3 separate regions of the Homo sapiens genome follow, and all the other regions are linked to region 3. The links come from fine-mapping of genetic effects on gene expression. A gene starts in region 3. Each other region holds a variant in brackets. All regions are shown on one strand. Distances are between the middles of the regions.

Region 1 (2,766 bases), 260 kb before region 3:
CTCCTGCCTCAGCCTCCCGAGTAGTTGGGATTACAGGCATGCGCCACCGTACCCAGCTAATTCTGCATTTTTAGTAGAGATGGGGTTTCTCCATGTTGGTCAGGCTGGTCTGGAACTCCTGACCTCAGGTGATCTGCCTGCCTCGGCCTCCCAAAGTGCTGGGATTACAGGCATGAGCCACTGCACCCGGCTTCACTTCCTTCTTAAACTGGATTACTGCTTGGCCTGCCTGAACTTATGACTGGGTGGGTCAGAATAATTTTGCTCAAGGTGGGCATCTCTGGCCACATGAAACTGGTCACTTGACGTTCCATGGTTGGAGCTCTAAAAAGGACCATTTCAGTTTCTGCTTTCTGAATAAAATATAGTTTGCTGCTGCCCGGGCCTGTTGCTGAGTTCTTTCCTGCTATAGGCCCCACTCTAAGCTGGCAGCCTTTCATATCTCCTAGTATATGGGTTAGACGAGTACTTCCAAGTACAGGCTATGCTTTCTCCAGAACCTGAAAATATCTACCAAGAATTGCTTTTCTTTTCTGAAAGAAAAGCAATTACCTTTCTTGTGGGAGGTAATAGATGCTAGAATTTGTCTTTTACTTAGGAGGAGATGTCCTGGCTTTCCCTAGGCCACTATGCCCCCTAAACTTTTCACTGACATGACAGGTCCCTGAATAGGGTTTACCTCCCACCCTAAAAAATCCGTGTGTCTTAACACAGTACACACATTTTGCACCCATCTACTATATTAAAATGATGTCCTCAACAGACAGGACCAATGTGATATACCACAGAGTGTCCAGTCTAGGTCCCTTTTGAATGTATTAGGGCAGATACCAGGAAATACAACATAGACCTTGGGCCACACAGTAAATGTATAATATTGTTTGCCTCAAATAAATGCAAACAACTTGTGATCCTTTTTTCTGATAGGGATGGAAAAGAAGGCATTCATCAGATCAGTGACAGCGTGTCATATGGCAGAATCTTTGTTAATCTACATTAGCAAAGATACCACATTCAGCATAGCTGCAATTGAGGGTACTATCTAATTAAGTAAATGGAATTCCATTGTCATCCATCATGACCTATCACGTTTCTATAAAGGCCAGACTGGTTAATTAAATGAGAATAGAATACAGACCACCCTGCATTCTGTGGCATTTACTTCTGCCTTTCCCTCCCAAGATGCAGTATTGGTTTACTGTCTTAGAGAGAAAGAGACAGTTTCAGAGGCTTTCCCACTTCAATTACCCCAGGTATAACAATTGAGAATTCTGTCAACTACCAAATATGCGCATTCCATTAGACATTGTAAAAATGACCACATGGTTTGTCTGTGAACACAGTGGCTCCACTGTGAGCAGGACCTGAGCCAGGATTCCACTTGTTCCCTGGCCGCCCCATGCCCTCATTCTAACAGGAGGGTCATGTTGGGACTTTGTGTCCCTGAATGCAAATATTAAGTCAGACCCTTTTTCCAGTAATCCTGTAAAGCTCGGGTATTTCTCTCTTTGCAATGCACAGTTACATAAGTTAGTGTTTATAAATCACTTTAGGGAAGACTGGGGAATTACTACTGAATACTCTTGCTGCAGTGTTGCAAGGTCCCTGCTCATAGGAAT[C/G]CAGCTTCTCCTTCAGTTAATGGATTCCAGCTCTGAATGTTGGCTCAGGTACAGAAACTGGGGAAGGAATCATGACTTTTTACTGGGGTGGTTACCTGCAGTCTTCTGCTTATTCATCCTTGATTTCTTTTCATTATATAAATGAAGTGGTCAACTTGTTGACTGCCCTTCACTCATGTGTCCAGAATACTATCTCTATACCTCACCAAAGGTTGGGCCCTCTTGGCTGCCACTCCAATCTCATTACTGATCACTATAGTTGTAAACACCTGGCCTTTCCTATTTTGAAATCCTATTATCAGCATTGCCGGAATAAAGGCCAGTTCGGTGACAGCACATCTTACTATCAGTCCTGTCCTAGATAAGGACAGACATCACTGAGCTTCCCAATGATGCTGATGTCACTCTGTGGTAGGATTATTTGTTAAAAAATGAAGACAATGGTATCTGTCGTTCCACATGCTTTTCTAAAATCTGACCTTGTCTCTCTGCCCATCGAGAGATGAGGGCTATGATTCTAAGCAGACTATGACTAAGTAATAGCCAAAAGAATGCAGCAAAAGTGATGATTTCCAAAGTATGACTTCTGAATCTAGGTCAAAAAGGTGATACAGCTTCAAGCTTGACCACTGAAGCACTTATTCTAGCAGGCCTGAACTACCATGTAAGAAAACTGACTACTCTGAAGCTGACATACTGTAAGAATTTAAGCTACATATAAAGTTCATGCATAGAGGCCCAGAAATCCTGATCTTCATATCATCCTAGCTCTGTCTCCAGACATATAAGTGAATAAGCTTTCATATATCTCCAGTACCCAGGTTTTGAGATATTTCCAGCCTTTGGGTCTTCCCATATGAGGCCTTAGACATCATGGAGTAGAAACTAGTGTACTTCTCTCTATAAGCAGAATAAAATGATTGTTTAAGCCATTGATAATATATTTCAGAGCAGTAGTAATCCGAACAGAAATCTGGTCCCTTGGGGGAACTATTCCATAACAAAATTTAGAACATATAGCATTGACTAAGTAGTGGTAAGTAGGCCACCCTCTCACCTGTGTATTCTTTATCCCTTTGATAAATGGAGTACCTCTGGGCTCTCCCATGGAACAGAGTCGGTTGGGAAATGTTCTGGCCTTAACATA
Region 2 (2,766 bases), 220 kb before region 3:
CTAAAAAACAGAGGAAATTTTCCCCAAATGCTTCACATTATACAAGTGTTTATTAAGACATAAACATAACTTAAATGTTTACTAAATGTTTTTACTTTTTTATATTAAATGTATATTGTTATTCAATGTTTATTAAATAATAAACAATATAATAAACAAAAATGAAGATAGTTGTTGAAGAGGTAGGCTAAGATGTCAGAGGGCTTAATTTTTGCAGCTTTTTAAAAATTTTATAATTAATTTTTGTGGATACATAGTAGGTTTATATATTTATGTGATACATGAGGTGTTTTTTATAGGCAAACAATGTGTAATAATCACATCACAGATAATGGGCTATTCATCCCCTAAAGCATTTATCCTTTGTGTTACAAACAATCCAGTTACTCTCTTTTAGTTATTTTAAAATGTACAATTAAGTTATTCAAAGGGCTTATTTCCTCTTCTTTCTTAATAGCAAATGAACACATACTGACTGAAATAAAAGCAGGTGCTTAGGAAATAATTCCATGCTTTTAATGTTTTCAATAATTTTTGCAGATTTAGTGATTGTTTAGAAAGTTATATCTCACTTTGATAAAACATTTTCCAAAATGCATGTTTTTCCTGCTTCATTTCAATTTTTTGTTTATAAGTTTCAAGTTTCACTAAAAAATACAATGTCACCCCATGTGACCCCATGTTAAATGAAATAATATCTATTAGTCAATCATTGCCAAATAATGCTGCATAACAACACTCTCAACATTTATTAATGACATGGTTTGGCTGTGTCACCACCCAAAAATTTCATCTTGAATTGTAATCCAAACCATAATCCCCATGTGTTGGGTGAGGGACCTCCTGGGAGGTGATTAGATCTTGGGGGCAGTTCCCCCATGCTGTTTTCATGATAGTGAGTTCTCTTGAGATCTGATGGCTTTATAAGTGTTTCTTCCCCCCTTCACTCTGCACTTTTCTCTCCTGCCACCACGTGACAAGAAAGTGTTTACTTCCCCTTCTGCCATGCTTGTAAGTTTCCTGAGGCCTCCCCAGCCATGCAGAACTGTGAGTCAATTAAACTTCTTTTCTTTATAAATTACCCAGTCTCAGGTATTTCTTTATAGCAGAGTGAGAATTAATATAAGTAGCTTCCAACAAGAAGCGTTAATTTCTCACTGAAGGATCTGTGGATTGTCTGGACTCAGTTGGATTTGCCAACACAGCATGGATTGGATTCAAATCTGCTGCATGTTTTCCCCTGGTGATAGCAGAAGTCAAAGAAATCAAACCCATCTGTGCAAGCACATTTGAAGCCTTAATACACATTACAGGCACTTTTTTCACCTTTTGTTCAAGCAAGACATATGACAAAGACTAAATTCAACAAGTGGGAAAATATACTCCC[G/A]TCGCCATTAGGCCGTGGCAAAAGTACAGATGTCAAATATTACTGTATGAGGCAGAACTGAGACCAATGATTCTATCACATCATCCATTTTTTTTTACCTATATTCTTCTATTCATAGAGAGTAGCTTGAAATGACGTACACTGAGGTGACAGAATTTGGGGGATTTTTCTTTTACTTTATTCCTCGTTTGGCGGGAGGGGGAGAAAAACTTTATTTCTTAAATACTACATTATATACAACTATAATTTTTTAAAAGAAAACAGCCTTATTGCGATACAATTCACATATTGAAAAATTCACCCTTTTGAAGTGTATAAATCTTTGGTTTTTAGTATATTCACACTTTTACAACTATTACCACTATCTAATTTCAGAATATTTTCATTACTCTGGGAAAACCTGAGCCCATTAGCAGTCTTTCCCCATTTATCCCCTTTCTGTAGCCCTTGGCAGCACTAACCTAGTTTCTGTGTCTATTGATCTGTTGATGCTGACTATTTCATATAAATGGAATCATAGAATATGAATGGCTTCTTTCACCTAGCATAATGTTTTCTGGGTTGATCCATACTGTAGGGTGTATAAGTACTTCATTCCTTTTAATTACCTAATAATATTCCATTGCTTAGATATACCATACTTTGTTCATCCATTTATCAGTTGACTGATGTTTTGGCAATTTCCATTTTTTGGCTATTGTGAAAAATGTGAAGAATATTTCTGTGCAGAATTTTCAGTTCTCTTGGGTATATGCCTAGGAATGAAATTGCTGAGTCATATTTAGTCTATGTTTAACATTTGTAACAACTGCACATTTCCCAAAGTGGCTGGAACATTTTATAATCTCACCAACAATATACCAGTTCCAATTTCTCCACATCCTCAACAACACTTTCATTTTGTTGTGGTGTCTTTGAAGCACAGATACTTTTAATTCTGATGATATCTTGCTCATCCATTTTTTTTTTTTGTAGTTTGTGCTTTTGGTGTCCTGAGAACCATGGCCTAATACAAAGACACACAAATTTTCTTCTAAATGTAAGGTTTTATCTCTTACATTTAGGTCGTTGATTCATTTTGGGTTAATTTTTACATATGGTATGAGGAAAGGTTCCAATCTTATTCCTTTCCATGTGCATATACTGTTGTCTTCACACCATTTGTCAAAAACACTATTCTTTATCCTTTGAATTTTCTTGTAATTCTTGTCAAAAATCAGTTGACTATACATTTAAGGATCTATTTCTGGATTCTCAGTTCTATTCCATTGATCTCCGTGTCTAACTTTATTAACTTTACCACACTATTTCTGTAGCTTTGTAGTAAGTTTTGAAATCGAGTAGTGTTACTTTGCACTTCTTCGAGATTTTGTTTTGGG
Region 3 (2,766 bases):
GCGCACATTTGCATGTAATGAGAGACCAAAGATACCTTCACAGTCTGGTATATATCACATACCAACGCACAATGCCAACGTTAACACACACAGCGAGAAACAAGCAGGGGGAGAATGGGGGAAAGACTCACCGTTCTGTTCCTTGTTGCTGGAAAACTGGAATTTACTACTCAGGTTGGATTCCGCCTGAGTCCCCTGTCTCTGGCCGGCCAGGGCAGATGTCAGCAGGAGAAGCCCGAAGAGGCTCATTTGGCTGACTGGGGTGAGAGCTCACTCACGGCGGGCACTTTGGAAGCAGCGACTCCCGAGTCTCTTTCACCACCGCCAGGGGAAGGCTGCACTGGGGTGGAAGCGCCGAGCCTGCTCTGGCAGCAGAGAATCGCAGGGTAGTTTCCACATAATCCCATCCAAAACTTTTTCCTAGAGCCCTCTTCTGTGTCTCCAGTTTTTGAAAAGGATCAAAGCAAAACCTGGACCTGAACCAGTTTCCCAAGGTTTAAACAAATCCTGAGCTGTGGCGAAGTGGTGGGGGTGGGGGTGAAGGCGAGGGAGGAATGAGGGGGTGGGGACGCGGGGGAGCGGCGAGAAGTCCCCAGCAAGTTGCTGGGAGCACCTGTCAGTTCGGGGGACAGGACAGAGGCGAAAACTCAAGGGTTGCCCGCAGCCAGACTGGAAGCCAAGTCGGCGGCGAGCAGTTTCTGATCAATAACAAAGCTGCCAATAGATGCGGCTCTCCGGGCGCCCCTCTCCCCCGCCCCACCCCCCACCCCCGAAGGGGGAGGGGGAAGAAACAAGGCGAGGGCGCCGCGGCGGGTCCCACGGGCCGGGGCGCCGGAGCGGGGCCGGGGGGCTCCGGGCCGACGGCGGCCCGGGCGCAGGCGGAGAGAGGCCGCGGGGCTCCCGCTCCTCAGCCCGGAGCGCAGTTGGCCCCGGGTTCGGAGCGCCGCAGCACGGATTCCGGCACCTGGCTTGAGTTTTCCGCGACCAAAGTTCACCTTGTTCGGGCTCGTCCCCCGCTCCTCAAAGCCTGGGGCAATTCGGCCGCTCGGGGTCACCGCGGGGCTCCGGTTGTTCCCCGTCCCCTCCCCCCACGCCTCGGGCTCCGCGCTAACCTCGGGGCTACGCGCGGCGTCTCCGCACGGGGTGAAGAGGGAAGGCCGGGGCGGCCGGGAGGATCCGGCTTGTCCCCTCCCCTTCTCTACCTTCCCCCCGCCGGGCGGCAGACAGGAGGTGGGGGCCGTGGGCCGAGCCCGGGCGGAGCGCGCGCCTGGCGAGCGGGGGCGGCTCAGCGGCTCTCCCGCAGGCGGCCGATGGGGCGGGCGGGGGTCAGCGCCTCTGGGAGGGGCAGCCCTGGGACGCGTCCGCGCGAGCGGGCTTGGCCGCCCACTGGCTGTCAACAGGTGCTGCGCAGACAGGGGGTGCTGCGGGACTCGCTGTGGGCAAGACCCCGGTGGCCCAGGAGAGGAACGCGGCCAAGGCGGCCCCTGCTTTCCCTTCCACGGAACACCTCTAACCCCAAATACAGAGCACGATGGGTGGTGAAGGGTGCTGCAGAAGTAAGTGGGAAAGAACTTCCTGCAGCTCTCCTTCTCCCGCCCCCTGTCGCCTGACTTGTCATTAGTTTCCAGGAGGGCTCCCCACTCCCTAAGGTCTTTGCTAGGACCCTTGGCCAGAGTTTCAGAACAGAAGGAAGAAGGGAAATGAATTCAAAGGCTTTCCTCCAATTTCCAGCTCCGTAAAGCAGGACAAATAAAGCAAAAGTAAAGGCAGCCAAAATAACATCCATTTAACAAGTACTATATTTACTGAATGCCTACTATGTCGGGCACTGTTTAGAGGTTGGAGCCGTAGCAGTGAAAACAGACAAAAGTCCCTGCCCTCGTGAAGCATACGTAGTAGTTGGGCAGCATTAAGCTAATAGCAAGCTCTTCTGAGAATGGTGTCTAAGGGACTCAGAATGATCCTGCAACCTTGGACTTTCCTACAATACAGCCTCTAACAAAACTAGGCTGCCCTGAACCCCTGGTGATAGAATTGTTTACATTTACACCAAAAAGGTCGAGAAAGAACTGAAATCTCTTGTGGCTTGTGTTCAGGCTGACTTGGAGAGAGAGGCCGATGCTTTAAGACCTAAAGTTCTCATGAGGTAGTCTGAAATGAAACACACATGCCAAGCAGGGCTTATGGTGGTTCCATGTCTGCTAAATATGTCTGTGACAGGATCCAACGTGCTTTCTTTGTGGAGAAGCAGAAAATCATTGTCAATGTGTTAAAGGCACAAGCAGAGAGTCAGAAAAGTTGAATTTTAAAATGAAGCTATTTTTGAGTAATAATCAAAATGAAAACAAGGAAGTGCCATGGCAGGCAAATCAGCAATATCACCCAACTTCTTGTGGAAAAAAAGTCAATGCAAACAATTCGACCATCAAGAACACTTGGGCTGGAACAGAAAACCAAAATAGCAATGTCCCTGAAACTAAGGAGTGGCATTTGGGCAAGAACATATTCTTACTGGACCAAACCAGGGGCTGATCCTTCTTCAGTGGTGAGGAAAATGCCAAGCCCTCTTCTTATATGCGAACACCAACTGGGGCCAACCAACCAGACCTTTCTGCTTGGAATATCCTAGTCTTCTTGTTTTTCCCTTTTAGAAACCTTTGAAAACTTCACCCATCTGTCTCATTCTTGAAAATTTCACCCGCCTGTCTCATTCATTCATTCTTATCCCTTTACCACTTCTATCTACAGAGTACTAAATATACACTA

Alleles and levels. Alleles are on the strand shown, and positions count from the first base shown. SD is a standard deviation of normalised expression in the study named.
In carriers of allele C in region 1, the expression in thyroid of the gene that starts at base 1,145 in region 3 tends to be lower than with G alone (moderate effect, 0.42 SD a copy in GTEx).
With allele A in place of G in region 2, the expression in non-classical monocytes of the gene that starts at base 1,145 in region 3 is lower (large effect, 1.1 SD a copy in Schmiedel 2018).

What was found. PIP is the estimated chance that this variant, and not a neighbour inherited with it, causes the effect.
Region 1: its variant is the best candidate, but not a certain one, in a credible set for the expression of PDGFC in thyroid (GTEx, PIP 0.75).
Region 2: its variant is the best candidate, but not a certain one, in a credible set for the expression of PDGFC in non-classical monocytes (Schmiedel 2018, PIP 0.70).

Annotation. Positions count from the first base shown.
Region 1 is chr4:156,709,395-156,712,160 of GRCh38, forward strand. No RefSeq gene overlaps it. Among named protein-coding and RNA genes, the nearest start is that of LINC02272, 68 kb to the left of the region's middle. The variant C/G (reference allele first, on the strand shown) is at 1,620.
Region 2 is chr4:156,754,148-156,756,913 of GRCh38, forward strand. No RefSeq gene overlaps it. Among named protein-coding and RNA genes, the nearest start is that of LINC02272, 110 kb to the left of the region's middle. The variant G/A (reference allele first, on the strand shown) is at 1,388.
Region 3 is chr4:156,970,655-156,973,420 of GRCh38, forward strand. PDGFC (platelet derived growth factor C) reads right to left here and starts at 1,145. Exons shown (of 6, transcript NM_016205.3): 1 at 132-1,145. The coding sequence starts at 249. RefSeq lists an enhancer at 932-1,432.